2 separate regions of the Homo sapiens genome follow, and region 2 is linked to region 1. Evidence: fine-mapped expression QTL. Tissue or cell type: whole blood. Region 1 holds a variant in brackets; the other region holds the start of a gene. All regions are shown on one strand. Distances are from middle to middle.

What was found. PIP is the estimated chance that this variant, and not a neighbour inherited with it, causes the effect.
Region 2: it holds the start of NCOA2, and the variant in region 1 is fine-mapped to the expression of NCOA2 in whole blood (TOPMed, PIP 0.98).

Annotation. Positions count from the first base shown.
Region 1 is chr8:70,213,627-70,221,727 of GRCh38, reverse strand. NCOA2 (nuclear receptor coactivator 2) reads left to right here. Exons shown (of 23, transcript NM_006540.4): 3 at 4,964-5,068; 4 at 7,653-7,825. The coding sequence starts at 4,983. Among named protein-coding and RNA genes, the nearest start is that of PRDM14, 150 kb to the right of the region's middle. RefSeq lists an enhancer at 2,147-2,196. The variant T/C (reference allele first, on the strand shown) is at 4,150.
Region 2 is chr8:70,400,055-70,408,161 of GRCh38, reverse strand. It overlaps NCOA2 (nuclear receptor coactivator 2), which reads left to right and starts at 4,354. Exons shown (of 23, transcript NM_006540.4): 1 at 4,354-4,462. RefSeq lists silencers at 3,578-3,737, 4,428-4,737, 4,778-5,067, 5,098-5,757 and an enhancer at 3,838-3,957.

The DNA of each region.
Region 1 (8,101 bases):
TATTTCCTGCATAGAATATTTATTCAACTGTTGCCAGAAGTTGGGATCTTGCCAAAATAATGTCTGCTTTGGGTAATTTCGACCAATTAACCCTATTTGAAAAGAGGTATTTCCCTTCCTCTAGCAACTGGATGTCTTCTGTATCATCTTACTGACTTCCCAAGTTTGGCCTACTTTCTTTTCTTTCTCAGGCATCTACATCCAAAAAGCACATTTTGTTTATTGAAGCATTAGATACTATGTTTTTTAGACTTATCAGAGCCTGGCCCAGAAATTTTGCTTTTATCCTTATAAAGGGATCGCTCTTGGAACACAGTGTACTTTGAAGGAGAAACTGTTACCAGTTTAGAATGAGCAAATGTTTTCATTTGTGATAAAGCAATAGTGGATGCAGCTTTAGCTGTTGAGGTGGGATTCTGAGAAACAGTGGGCTCTAAAAGATTATCCTTCTGTAGTTTAGTTAAATAGAAATGGAAGGGTATTTAAGTGAGGTTTTATGTATACTTTTAATATTGCTTGAGCATTTCTTGGTTTTAAAAGTTTGTAAAGGGTTAGACTACATATTACACAATTTCATATGTCTATCGTAAAGAGAGCTCAGAAGGAACCTCGGAAATCTCTAAGTCTTTCTGTTCTCATAACAAGAGCTAGATGATTTATCAGGCAGGTCCTCTTCAAGTAGACATTCATAAGAGAAGTGGTTTCAGTAGCTCTTTCTGTGTCGTTTCTAACTTGGGGAATTTCAGAGAAGGCCTAACTTTAAGAACATTTATTGGAGCTAGCAGTCAGGATCAGATGTTCGATCACTTTATTATGTTTGGAGTTCAGCAGCAGTAGTATCCTTATTCTTTAACTGAATTTGTTCTGTATATAATGCATCTGGCAGTTTTACAAGCCTTGTTTGGAAGATAGGCTGTCTTGATAAAAGATAAAATGCATATTATCGTTTACATAAATTATGGATGATTAACAAGCTTTAATGGTATGAGGTTGTATTGAGAGCAACAGCTTTGTTACCTTATAAATTATATTGGTGAATTCCATGAAAGTACATTTTTGAATTGTGTTGAGGTTTAACATTTTATTTTGCTTTCTGTCATTATGCTAAGGATTCAACTGGCTTTGTTCACCCCTCCCAGAATATTGTTACTTTTTAGAGATAAAACTTACTAATCGTAAGGCTATAACTCTTCCCTACCGTCTAGCTCATCCAAGCTGATATCAAGGGATGTAAGGGAGGATGTATGGTCACTGTGAAAACAGGGCTATTGTGTTGTTACAGATAACAAGAATGGATGATTTGAAACTTTTTTTTTCAGACTTGTCCTTTCACAACCCCCAACATCTGGTAGAAACTGGTTTGCTCTCAATGACTGTAATTACCATCAAATACAGCCTGAGAGTTTACTTGTGTCATTTTCAGTTTTTGTGATTTACGTTAAACAGTTTCAGCATTGAGAGTGAGATGCTTAAGAATTTTAATTTCATGTGAGTGTGCAGAAATTATAAGAAACTATTAATTTAGAGCTGGTCACCAAATGAAATTTTAGAACCTTCAGTGCTGCTCTTTAGTATTTTCCATCTCCTACCTTTACACTGGAAATGAATTTTTTAACTTCGATCTACAAAAGTGCATAAAAATTCCTCTGTCCATAGAGTTTATTTTAGATATTTCTCTATGAGTGACTATACACTAGAATGTACATTTGTATAGAAAAAGTAATTTATATAACTTAGAAGAAAGTCGTTTTTATAACTTATCTATCTCTCTCTGGTTTTTATTTGTGTCACTTCTGCATTGCCCAGTATTTTGAGTTGGGGGAAAAATGAACTCACCTGGCCCCACCTCCTGTTCCAGTGTGAAATACTGACACTTGCTGCCAGCCCAGCCTCCTCACATAAGCATTAGAAATATCAGACAGTCCACTAGGTTAGAGCACCTCATTCATGAGGTTCTGTTATTTATTCGGCTCTCCCACTAAAATGCAGGGCATAAATTTATGTGTCTGCTCTAAGACTGCAGCTGTCTGCCCCCCCTCCACCCTCCTCCTGCCCTTCCTGTGTCAGTGTTACATTCGCTCCCCCCACTTTTGGTCTCAGGTCTGTCTCCTTTTTGTTTTTATGGGTGATTTGCAGTGATTCAGACAGGGCATCCTTGCATGTTGGCACTTCCTGGAGGTTACCAGGAGGCAGCCATCCTTCCTTGGCTTGGCCAGGCATCCCCGACTCCACCCCACTTTCCCCTTGGTGGTGGAAAGGTGGGTTGGAGGTGTGTACTGGGGCACATAGCCCAGGAATGTTGCTCTGAGAAGAGGACATGTGCAGTAGACACAAAAATATAAGGAAGCAATTATGTTCATCAAGCCGAAAGTTGCAGATTTTGAGGAAATGTGTTTAAGATACCACTACATAATAAAAGGGAAAACCACTTGGCATTTAAATAACTTACTTCAAGAGGAAATTATGATATTTTCAGTCTACAAATAGAGTGGTTTTTAAGCCAACCTTGAGTAGGTACAAGCAAATTATAAACAGTCTGCTCAAATGATTTTACTATACTTAGACTAGAAAATGGCTCCTCTTCTCTCTCCCTCTGGTCCCTATGTCCCAGTGCTGTCCCTCATATGTTACAATTGTTCGTGTATGTATTTTAGAATATTCACAGGTAAATGATGCAAATAATATATATATAATGTTAAATCATCCTCAAACTGGGTGTATATGACTTTAGGTAAAACAGTTCCTTACTTTAATTGTCTGTTGAAAGCTTTCTGATCTTTCTGATAATACTATACATTTTAGTATATGTGGCATTGCTTTTGAGGGGGGGAATAGCCATTTTAACAAAAAAACTTGTCACCTATACCTACTATATAGGGCATTTTGCTATGCTGTATATTGAAGGCTATATTGTAATGATAGAAACTTTCTTAAGTTTGTATGACTTCTAGAAAGCTGCTTTCAGAGTGAAAATCTCCTAGGTCATTTGTTGAAAGGTTACTTAGACTGGATGTGTAATGTTTTTTCTTACATCTCATGATTGAAACCATGGGAATTGTGATTCAGAGAGAAGTACTGAAAGTGAATGTCTATAAGGTATCATCTGAGAAGGGTTCTGGAATTTAGGGTTTTGTTGTTGTTACAGAGATGGGATCTTGATACGTTGTTCAGGCTGGTCTCCAACTCCTGGTCTCAAGTGAGCCTCGCATAGCTAAAAGTGGTGAAGCTTGGACATGAATACTGGCCCTTCACTTCTCTGCTATCCTGCCTCTCATAGTCTGCCTCTCTCATAGTAAATAAATACAGATTATACTTATTATCAGGCCAAAATTGTGACCACAGTGTGGGACATTGGGACTTGGTTGCATTGCTCTAACCAGCAAGAAGCTTGGGTATCAGCTTTGAGAATTATTCCCTTCTGTGTCACCTCTTGAATCAAATGTGTACCAGTGGTGCAGCCTCCCTAAACGGATACAGTATTTCTTCATTCTGCTTACATATGACTCTTTAAAAAAAAAAAAAAAAAAACTAACTCCACTGCGCTATTGTATCAGAAGTGGCGAGAAGAAATTATTGTAGTACAGCTGAGACTGGGCAGCCCAGATTACAGGGAAGAAGTGGCCTGGCGGTTTGACTGGTACGCGTTATGTTCCTTAGCCCTCCTTGCTCTTTGTCCTTACTCTTGATTGTCCTCTGTCATCTTCCTTAAGTTCTCTGTCTTCTAATGCACTTTACCTTCCCTTTGATTTTTTTTTTTTTCTATCCAGAAAAGAAAAGAAGCCACTACAAAAAGTAAAGGAGGGGCAAAGGTGATTTAGAAGTCTGGGGGCCAGAAGGAAGGGGAAGTAGTATCGAATAGGAGCTCTAGGAAAGACTTTAAATGCAGATTTCAGCTTGTCCTGCTGCATTGTTTTTTCTTTTGGTAAGCAGTTATTGAACACCTTGAGTAGCAGTCTTTTATGGTTTCCTCACAGTCTTTGTAAGTCTCTTTGTTTAGCTCTTTCAGTACGTAAACCTCTGTCACTGGCTTGTTCTTGCTTACCTAAATATTATTTTGATTATGTTAGTGATGACGAGCACACTGATTTTCTTACATTTTTTTTTATTTTCTTACTGAGAGGAATTCAGCAAGCAGGAGCTGATCATGGT[T/C]CTTCCCACTTGGGGGTCAGTAAAGTTCCCCTGACTTCTGGGGCATATCTTAAGACCTTTGGCGTTAGCAGCCAGAACCAGCTGAGGGAAGGAAAGTTTGGAGGCGGCAGGATGTGAGAGAGGAAGTGACCATGCTGTGTGCAGGGAGGCGAGCTGCCACAGAGAGAGGGCACCGATGGAGGAGCAGCCAGGCAGCTGCTGCAGGAGAGCCAGGCACAGGAGCTTCCCGAGGGGCCAGGAAGATCCCCCACTAGGGGGCATTGATTAAGAGGCCTTGTGCAGGAACTCGGGGCTACAGGGGTGTCAGATGTACCTAGTTAAATTTGAAAACCTTCAATTTCGTGTCCTGGCACTGGCTCTTCCCCGGGCTGTCTGTTGTGGGTGAGCTGTTGCAGCATAGACTTCACATTGGCTAACCCAAAACAGAGACTGGGAGGAGCCCCTTACAACACCTGTAGTTTCCACATGGTGCAAGATCACTCTTGAAACTGGAGGCTGGCAGCCCAAACCCAGAGCTGGTAGATTGTAGTTCATGGTGCTGTTGAAATACAACTCGTGTTTAAAGAATTTGGGCCCAATGAGGTAGGCTTGTTTGTTTCTTAAATGTTAACCTTTACATTTGCTTAATCTTAAAAGATTTTTTTAAAGAGACGGCTTTTATATTAGAAATTATACATGCACATAAAACAATGTTAATTACTGGTCTCAAATTTCTGATTGGAGTCAAAATTCTTTTATTGTTGGTAAAATGATCAGACACTTCATCATCAGCTCTCTTCATTTTTTTCTTCCTCTTCTCTGTTTTCTGTTTTAGTTGCTGATATGTGTTCAAGATGAGTGGGATGGGAGAAAATACCTCTGACCCCTCCAGGGCAGAGACAAGAAAGCGCAAGGAATGTCCTGACCAACTTGGACCCAGGTTAGATTCTTGCTGAGAAAAGGAATCAGTATTGTCTGTTAAAGCCACATGAGTGCTTCTTTGTTATTTTAGCATTGATTTTACTGCTGATTCAAATATTGAGTTGGTTTTTCTCCTTAACAGTTAAATCTCTGAATATGTACTTGCTTACATTTTGAATATGCAAATCAGTTACAGATTGTATTCTTTACAAAAAGAGGAAAGCTGTAAACTTCTGATATCTTTTGACTCTTAGAATCAATTTATTTAATAATATTGAGTTTGATTACACAATATTATAACAAGAAGATCCTATAGTAAAAAGGATTTGCCGTTAATTTTATAATGGGTTTTATTTTTGTTGTTTTATTTTTAAAGACATAAAATGTTAAACCCATGTACTTCTGAGTTGAGAACAAAGATTGTGGCTCTTTAGTGAATAAAACAAAGAATTTTAAAGCAAATTTCATCTCATATATTATGGGTGGAAGTATGAGTTGTTATAATGCCCATGTAGGGTAATTTGGCAGTATCAAAATTATAAATGCATATCCTGTTTGAACTAGCCATTCCACTTTTAGGAATTTTCCTATTATATACTTTAACACATGCAAAATGACGTGTATATGAGGTTACTCAAATTGCAAAAGATTCGGAAAAACCTAAATGTCTGTTAAACAGCTGTGGTACATCTAGAACCTGGAACACAGTTCAGCTAGGATAAAGATGAGGATGCTCTTTATGGGTTAATATGAAAAAAAAATCTCTTAAGAATATTGTTACAGACAAAAAGCAAGGTTTAGAAAATGTTTTTGGAATATTGCCATCTGTATAAACAAGGAAGAAAAAAGAATGTGTATTGTTTTAGGATAATCAAGAAACAATAATTGTTGCTACCTGTTTCGGTGGATGAGAACTGGGCAAATAGTTACCAAAAGTAGAAGAGAGACTTTTCACTTTTTCAATGTTTTAAATCATATAAATAATTTTAAGAATTAAATAAAAACAACACCTTCTACCTAATGGACAGTAAAAGCATCAGACATGAAATAGTAGGGAAGAGGGCTAGGAAAAGTCATCAAGAGAGGCAGAGCAGGAGAAAGGGCAAAACACCAGTATTTTATATTCCCTTTTCCCCTTCTAGTTGCCAAGCAAAACATCAAGCCCAATAAATCTCCACTCTCTACATCCCAGCCCCCAGCTCCTCTAGGTTCCCTACTACTTCCTGGTAAACCACAAACTTCTGTCTGTCAGACTGCCTTTAATAGTCAGGAGCCCTACCTGGGGAGGCAGTGGGAGAAAGTGGGAACTGTTTCAGCTGTGGGCTGTAGTGGCAGGTCTCTGAGCCCTCCCTCTGGGGCGCTCAGGGGTCTTTTGAACACAACTCCCCTTTCTCACCTATTTGTCATTTATTTCTTACCTTGTGAGAGGGTGAGAGGGCATGGGTGGAGGGTGGTGGAGGGGGTCAGAATGGGAACTGGGCTATTCTAAGCATTCCAGCCACTCTTTACCTTTTGCTGTAAAAACAGAAGCTACGGGTAAAAATGAGACTTAGAAAAAAAACCAAATTCTGAATTACTGTGCCAGTAATTCGTGGGGTGATCCTGGACAAATTGTATAAACACTATAAAATAGAGACATTGTATTATAGTATGTATTTATGAAAATCAAACATATTTAGAGATGCATATATGAAAGTCTATTGTGAATCCAGAAATTTTAAAATTAGTATTATATACAAATAATTATATATAAAAATACAGAAAGCTGCTACATTAAGCAACTTGCTTTTCTTCCTTATTGTATTGTTTTGAATGTCATTTAATGGGCCCCCCTTTGCACTTGAGAAAATAATTGTATGCTGTTATTATGAAAAGGAACTTTTCAGTTTACTATTTTGTCACATTCTAATGGAAGATTTTGCCTCTTTTGATATTTTTCCATTCCATTAACTTTTTAAACTTTAGTTGAAATTGGACTGTTTGTTTATATTTTGCATGTCATTCAGCTTGGACAGTTAACAAATTTCCTGGGTCAGTTTCGCTTTTGTTTCTAGCTGTATTGTGACTTTTTGCATTACCTAAAAAGGCTGTTTGGTTTGCTTACTAACATTCTGAAGAAGTCTATAAAATTATAAATATCTGGTTTTATTTTTTATGTTTTACCAAAAATTATTGAAATTTATTCCTGTTATTAACTGGGTTAACTTCTCTTCTTTTACTAATCTTAAATAAATTTTAAAATATAACCTCCTTTACCTTTTTGAAACATTCTTTTATTTGTCAACTAATTTGGTGCCCACTTGTTTCAAGTACTGCACTAAGCACAGTGGTGAGCACAGTCCAGGTCACTGTGAAGTGGACAGTCCAGTGGGAGACGCCAAACACATTGAACAGATAGTTTCATTACAAACTAGGCTTAGGTTGATTTTTTTAAAAAAACATGGAACACTTTTGGAAAATTGTGTTTTTCCCCCAAAAGTATTTCTGTGTTTATATAGGTAGCTTTTGTTTGCTATCTTTGTATTAAACTTGTTTAACACGTTCATTTTTTTCACAATAGCTCTTTTTCAAATACATCATAAAAATGTGTTTCTTCTTTTAAGCCCCAAAAGGAACACTGAAAAACGTAATCGTGAACAGGAAAATAAATATATAGAAGAACTTGCAGAGTTGATTTTTGCAAATTTTAATGATATAGACAACTTTAACTTCAAACCTGACAAATGTGCAATCTTAAAAGAAACTGTGAAGCAAATTCGTCAGATCAAAGAACAAGGTAAGAGGACTGAATTAGTATTTTGAAGAGTTGAATTGGTTTCTGTTTTTCCCTGTGTGAGAAGTCCCTTCAGAGTCCCTTTAATCCATTTCTTATGCTTAAATTATTGATGAGGAAATGATGTCACAGTGTAAGATGAATGCAAGTATCACTTGCAGTGGTTTATAAATAGGCTTTGTATAAAATTCAGCCATACCCTAAAGACAGAGAAGACTGAGGTGAGTCAGGGTGATGGAACTTTTCATCTAGTAAACTCAGTTAGGTGCCCACAATTCT
Region 2 (8,107 bases), 190 kb before region 1:
GTTCACCCAGTTAGTAAGAGCCAAGATTGAAACTCATGTCAATCTCACTCAGAATACCCTGGAATGAGTGTGGGTGTATTAATATTTGTTTTTGCTTGAGAAATAAGGGAGGTATGAATAGAGGGGGAGAAATAAGGGAGGTATGAATAGAGGGGGTATATCAAAGAGGTTCTTAATCTAAGATGAAGGATTTGAATTGTATTCCATAGTTAATGAAGGATCATTAAGTGTTTTCAAGTGGGAAAGTAACAAAATAAGACTGAGGGGATCAATCCTGTGACAGTGTACAGTATGACTTGAAGGGAGCCCATTCATTCATTTATTCATTCTTTTCATGATCATTTATTGAGTATGCATTATGTTCTAGGAGACAGAGTCTTGCTCTGTCACCAGGCTGTAGTGCAGTGGTGCGATCTTGGCTCACTGCAACCTCCGCCTCCCGGTTCAAACAATTCTCCTGCCTCAGCCTCCCAAGTAGCTGGGACTACAGGAGCGCGCCACCACACCCAGCTAATTTTTTTTTTTTTTTGTATTTTTAGTACAGACGGGGTTTCACCATGTTGGCCAGGATGGTCTCAATCTCTTAACCTCGTGATCTGCCTGCCTCGGCCTCCCAAAGTGCTGTGATTACAGGCGTGAGCCACTGCGCCCAGCCAATGTGTTTCTCAGAGTAGTAGAAATACAAGTGATGAAGAGTAGAATCCTAACACAATCTTAGATATGCAGCGAAGGCAGTTCTATGACTTTGCATTAATTTACTTGAAGTCTCTGAAGCTCAGCTTTATTGTACATAAAATGAGAATAATATACATACAATGACTACTTCAGTAAGGAAAAAATTTATGTAATATGCTTGACTTATATTAGACATTTGTTTATTGTAGTTATACTATTTAAGGGATTTAGAAGAGAGCAAACAATAAGAATGAAACATTTCATCACAGTCGTTCAATAATCAAATTGACAAACAAATGTTTTAACTGACGCCCCCACCCTATGATTACATTTTAATAGAATGAACTATAGATTTTTGCTTTGGCAATTTAGGAATGCACCAAAACAGAGATAACTGTGCTACATATTAGCTGACATAATAATATTCCCTTACATCTGTATAAAGAGCTTGATAGTTAACAAAGTACATTTATTTACACCATTTTGAGTCTTGCAACAATTACACAGATGAGGAAATTGCGATATTTAGTGACTTGTTTGAGGTCACACAGTAACTTACAGAGACCACTTCACATCATATTTATTTGCTTATATTCTATAGCTCTTTTTTACCATACTGTTACCTCTAATCTCATGATGTATGCTAGTAGTATTAACTCAAAAATAGTATAGAATCTCCCACTTTTATGCAGTTTACTTATGAAAAAAGTGAGTACTTTGAAAACTGTGGAAGAAAAGGCAGACAAAAATAGAAATTCTTGTCTTGTAGCAGTCATATTGTTCTGATTATTCCTAGGTTATATTGTTAAATATATAATTTGTCATTTTCTTTACTTTTCCATGCTGCATTTATGATTCTGCTGACATTTTTGGTGTTTCCTTGCCTCATCCATTCACGGTATGTTATTTCTACTTCCACTAAATTTCAATAATTTCCTTCCCCTTTATGATCTGCACCCACATATTTTTTCCTTGTTGTTCTCTCTTGGTAATATACCTAGTTCCTATATCTTTGCCTTCTTTTTTCTTTCCTTCTTCTTCCTTTCTTAATTTGTGTCATTGAGCCAACTTATTTACCGCCTCCTCTACCTTTTCATTTTACATTATCATAGTGATGATTCACTAAAAATTATGGCTAGTTTTAATAAACAATTGTTCTGAGGTCTCATGGGAATCAAAGTTCTTTCTAAGTATGGAAGATGTTTTTTATAAACATGTTTTATGAGCAAGGGATTGGAAGATGAGGTGGGGAAGAGGACATGAGGATCGGAATAGATACTATTATTTATATTTCACAAATTCAATGAAACAACAAACATCATACATTCCTTGTTAGGTGCTATAGCATGTACAAACAAGAACAAGACTAGGTCTTGGGCTCTGTTGCACTTACAATCTAGTGAAAGAGAAAGACAAACATATAAACAACTCTAGTGCAAGACAGACTACTGTTACAGCAAGAGCCTGAAGTTCAGAGGGCACCCAGAGATTGTACCAGAGCGCGTTTAAGTCACACAATTCAATTCAAGCTCAGGCAATTGAGTAGCACTTGGGCATGGAACTCATCTACTATGCTGTCAGACGTTTTTGTTTATTTCTTGTAAGAAAAAGTCTTCAGCCGTCGTAAGACGTTTTATTGGGTAATACGGGAATGCAATGGGGGGAGTCATTTGTTTGCAGAGGTATCATGGGTAGTTTTAAAAAGTGTGAAATCTACGATTGCAGAGGACTGATAGACTCTGGACTTCTGCCAAAATGGGAGGGATAGCAAGCAAGAAGGAGAATCTTTTTTTTAAATTTTTATTTATTTATTTATTTATTATCACAACTCCTGATAACTCACAGTTGGGGGTGAGGACAGGAAAGCAAATCGGGAGTTCAGAATTGTGACAAACCTCAGGTGACTACTACCCCATTGTAGACAAGCTACAGACTGGTATTAGCAGAAGATAGGCCATAAACAAACTCTCCATTTCCTCTCAACGCTTTGGGAACATAATTCTATTATTCCAGCTAGCTAAAAAAAAAAAAAAAAAAAAAAAAAAAAAACCTTTAAAAATATACATTAATACATAGTCAATGCAAACATTTCAAACATTAGATAGGTGTGCAAAATAAAAAGTGGAAGTGCCTCATCACCCACTTCTTACACTCCCCAGCGCTAACATTTGTTGTTATAGGCTTCCAAGCATTTTCTATCCACAAACAAACACAGACACACACACCCCACACATTTTTTTTATTCTTTTCCCAAATAAAATTGGCGGTACACCCACAAATTTTAGGATGAAGACATGTTTAAAAGCATGGGCTTTGGAGCTCACCAGAACTGGGCTCACATCCTCTCCAACTACTGGCTGTGACCCTGGGCAAATTACTTTAAGCTTCAATTTTTTGTGTGAAGTGAAAAGCGGCAATGACTTCGGAAGGTTTGAGGATTAAGGCCTATAGCATATATACATCACCTAGCACAGTCAGATTCACAGTAAGTGTTCAATAAACACTCTTATTGTCTACCGCAAGTGACCTTTCTCATTATAAGATTAAAATCAGGGAATATGTTCCTCTCATAGTTTGATAACTGCCATTAAACAAAAGTTTTTTTTTTCAACTAATTACCGTATAAGTTGGAAAAAAAACTTGCTTTTCCAAAGCGTAAAACAGATTGGTCTAAGTAACACTTAAATGGGGGTTCTCGCATTTTCAGTGCCAATCTCCTACGTCCCCTCAGTACTTTGTTCACGGATGTCTAGAGAATGGACTTTCCAATACAAACTTATGATTTCATGATGTGCCGAAAATTCTCAACCAGGTTAAGTTTCACACTCTGTGTGCAGCATTTGCTTTATCCCGCAATTGCCGGGTGGTGCCCCTTCCAGCTCCCACAGTCGCGCCTCTCCATCCCCTCTGGAGCTAGGACTGCAATGGGAGAAGCCTCTCCCTGTTGGAGCCGTAGGGGACTTGACGGATGCGGGGCGCCTCCGGGGAGCAGCGGCAGGACCGGGAGTTGGGTAGGGTGAGGTGCGCCCGAGGGGGTGCAGGGTGCTGGCCGAAGGGTCCGGCCGGACGGGCGCGAGGGTCCTCTGCTGGCGACCCTGGAACTCGGCTCTCCCCGATCTTCGTCCTGGGGCACCGTCCCTGCCGTCTGCAGCCCCCAGGCCCCACTGCCTCTAACTCAGCGGCCCAGGCCCGTCCCAGTCGCTAGTTTTCTTTTTGGCATTGCCCTTTGCCCTCCCATGCAGTCCTCTGTTGACTCTCTCTTCAGTTCCAGTCACCTCTAGGTCACCCTCCCTCTACCACAGTCACCCATTTTGTCCCCTGTCCCCTTACTCTTCTTCACCTCTCCCCGGGCCGCCTTCTCAGAGGACTCTGCCGACGGAGATGCTGCGGACCCCGCGGCCAGGGGCTGCTCCCCGGACAACCCTGCGTCCACCTTTGCCCCTTCCTCGGGGGCGCGAGAGGCAAGTTTCCGCCCCGTCCTTTTCCCGGTGACAGGACTTGGCGGCGGCCACTGCCGGGGAGGCAGAGGGAGGGACGGCCTGGCTCCCGAGCCCCCTCCCCTGCTCGCGAGCTCGCGCTGTCTGTCTCTCCGCAAGTGCGGAGACGCGGAGGAGGAGGAGGAGGAGGAGGAGGAGGAGGGAGTTGGGGGAGGATCTCCATTGAAATAAACAACCAGGCAGCAGTTATTAACACGGGAACATGGCGGCCGCAGCCTCGGCTACAGCTTCGGCGGCGAAGGTCAGCGCCGACGGCAGCCGGCACCTGACGGCGTGACCGACCCGAGCCGGTAACCGCGCCTTCCCCCGGGGCCGCGAGGGCGGGCGGGGGGCGGGCGGCAGGCGGGGGGCGCCGCGTCCCCACCCCCGGCCGCGACTGCCCTTCCTGCGCCGAGCTCCGACAGAGCCGTGCGCCTCCGAGAGGCTGTTTTTGTGTGCGGGGACCGCCGCCGGAGTGCGCGGAAAACGGGAGTTGCATCCCGGAGGCGCAGCGACGCTGGGGAGTTGGGGCTTGGGGGTGGGGAGGGCGGGAAGCGACGGGGAGACGCGGAGTCCCCGGGAGAGAAAGGAGGCGCTCCAGCGCCTTGCGAGAGCTCAGGAGACGAGTCCCGGAGCGCGAGGCGGGCGGAGGCTGCAGCCCGCGGCGCGGGCGAGAGGTGAGCGCCGAGGCGCGGCCGGGGGTGCGGGCGCGGCCCCCGCCCCGAGGAGCGAGTGCCCATTGCCCAGCCCGGTGCGGGGTCGGCGGAGACCGAGGCTCTAACCCCTCGGGGGCAGCGCGGCAGAGCCGAGAAGGTGAATCCTGGGAAGGTGCATTCTTTAATGGAAGCGCGGAGCGGCTGCAGCGGAGAGTGGGAGCCGGGCGAGGGGAGGCAGGACTCGGGAAGTGCTGGGGGTGTGTGAAGGTGAAGCGGGGTGTCGGGGCGGCCGGCGAGCTGCAGCGCGGGGCGGGGAAGGGGAGCCGCGGCCCGGCGGGTGGCCCGGGCCCGTGTCAGCCCCGGGGGTGGGGGGCGAGGGGCGCCGAGCACCGCGGGCGGACGGGAAGGAGCTGCGGCGGGCGGGGCGGGCGGCGCGCTGGGGCCGAGCAGGCCGGGCCGTGGTGGGGGCGGGGAGCCGGGGGCCGGGCCCCGGCGGCGCCGAGCCGGGCTCGCCCCTGACTGAACTTTCTGGGTGCGGGCGTGTATGCAGGAGGCGCGCTGGGGCCGGGGCCGGGGGCGGGAGGCGGACCGGGAGGTTCCGGGTTGGCTCGCCAGCGCCCCCTTTTCTCGCCCCCTTCTCTCCGCCCCTGAAGGGACAGGCCCTCGGGGCCCCAGGCGGGAAGCGGGAGGGGCCCTGTGGCCGCCTCGCGACGGTCACGCCCCGGGCACGGGGACCCGGCCCTCTCGGGCCCCTGGGGGGTGCTGGGGGAGGGGGCCGGGGTCGTCGCTGCCGGCTGCGCTCCCCGCCTCCTCCCCTCGGGGGAGTCCCAGAGGCGCCTCTTCCGAGACCGGGGGTGGGTCGGTCCCTGGTTAGATGGCCCCTCCCTCTTCCCCTCCCTCTAGTGGTTTCCGGGGCCTGCGGGACCGAGGGGCGGGAATCGGGGACTGGAGCCCCCTTCCGCTGGCCCGGAGCTGGACTGGGCCTCCCGCGTTCTGGGTCCGTCACTGGTAGGGGAAACTTTCCCAAACCAGAGACCGAGCCTGAACACCTTCCTCCGCCACCTCGTCCTCTAATCCCACTCCCTCTCCACCTCCTCCGACGCCTTCCCCTCCCACCGACCCGAATCTCGGTGCGTCTGACTGATGGGGCAGTGAGCCAATCGAAGGCAGGGAGCTGACCTGCCGGGTGTCGGTGAGCCAATCGTGCGGACCGGAGGAAGGAAGGGGGCGGGGTTTCTCCTGACCAGTTAGAGCAGAGTTGCATGCGGGGCGGGGGAGTCATGGAGACGCTGAGAGCCAGCTACTCTTGTCCATCCCCGAGTCACCCGCTCCTTGATTTCTGGGGTTGTGTCACTTATAGGGGCTCCGACCCGCAGAGGCTGCCGAGGCACTCGAGGTCCTGTATGTCTTTCGTACCGAAATAGACGTTGTCTTAGACACGACGAAGTCTAAAGCCACTTTAGGATGTGGCAGTAACTCACCGAGGCCGGTTTCTAAAATGGCATATGCTGTAGTGATCATGTCCTGGACCTCAGCGTCCGGTTTACATGCTAAGGGTCACAGAAGACAGAAGTTACCCGTTTACCTCTTATCTCGGTTTCACTCAGCTATGCCAGAATGGGGACAATGAAATTTGAAAGGGAACCCTGAGAATGAAGGCATGGGAGCAGTATCACGTCAACTGATTATTGGTAGTAGAAAGCATCATTGTTCATAATGGCTTCACTGGTTTCTTGTTTAATTAGAGCTCCAGTTCCCAAAGTGTACTTGAAACTTCGGCATTGGGGATGTCATTAAAAAAAAAAGTTGTGGTTTATGGTATGCATTTTTTTTTCTTTTTGCAAACAAAATGAAGTTGGGAACTAAAGCATCACTGATTGAAACATTAAGTGTGGGTATTTAAGGAGCAAAGCTAATCAAAGAATATTTGTCTACAGGAAAAAGTCTGAGTAAAATGTAGTTTGCCAGATTACTCCCACACAAAAGATTCTTAAAAATAATTTTAATTTTCTTAAACACTGCTGAATTGTACAGTGTGTGGGTACTTTTCTGGTTTATACAAGGTTTGGAGACATCTTTGGTTTTAACTGTTTATTGCGCGTTCAGTCAAGTGACTTTCTCAACTCTTGACTTTTAGGAACAGAGGTCTTTGATTCTCTGTAAAGATCACAGGTTGCTCTGCAGGAATAGCAGTCTTTTAAAAAGAAAGCAGCTGCTACAAAGCATGTGTGTGTGCGCGTGTGTGTGTGTGTATGTGTGTGTGTGTTCCTGTTCTTTGTTGGTGAGGTTAGGCACACTGACAGAAGTAATGCTCCCTTTCTCACCTGGAATTTGTAGAATCTTTGGGAGCTCAAAGAATGAAAAGTGTTAGATTAAGAATGAATTCATTGATTTTTGTCATAAGTATCCCATGAATTTAATTTTGGGAGTGTTTTCTTTTAGGTATCTTATGTGGAAAATGTGTATCTTTTCTATAAGTCAAGCTTTTATTAATCTTGGGTTGCTAAGAAAGAATCGAAGGGGACTGCAGTTCTAGGGAACAGTATTTGCCAAATCTTACAAATGTGTTCTGTTGTAATATAGTGTTTTCAAATTTACCATGAGAATTCCCAATTCAGGATCATTTTGGGTGCATGTAGACAAGAATTAATTGCATTTTGCTGTGGCTCTTGAGATGTTTTTTGTAATAAAATAGTAAAAACAGAGAAGGTAAACCAAACACTTAGACTGACAGAGAGGTAAGGAGTATTAAAAACAACATTCAAAATTTGACAACATTCAAAACCCCCCACCATTTGTTAATTTAGTTACTTATGGGCACTCTGACATATGCCCTTCTCTCTTTTGTATGCTGAAGAGCAACACATTATTTTACTTAATTCTTTGCAACAATCCTTGAAAATGTGGTAAGATTCTTGGTGGCAGAGAGAACCAAGTCTCCTAATGGCTGGCTTGGGGGGAAAAAAACCTCTCAAGCATATGGAGACATCTAGAAAAAGATGTGCATCGTCAGCTGTGATTCCATTGTGTGCTCTCAGACTGGATCTGAGCTTCCTTCCTCCTGGGAATTTCAGTCTTAAACAGAGGAGTTCTTTGACTTTTAGATGTCAGTATACTGAAGCAGGAGGGTAGAAAAGGAGCTCACCAATTACGGATTTATTATGTTTTGAGTAGTTAATATGTTTTGGATTTTAACCCTTCATTGGTTAAATATAATTTAGATGAGTGGCTTAGTGTTAGAAGAGCATTTTATTGGAAATATAAAATGTAAGGCTTGGAGGGGGATTTGGGCTGTGGATA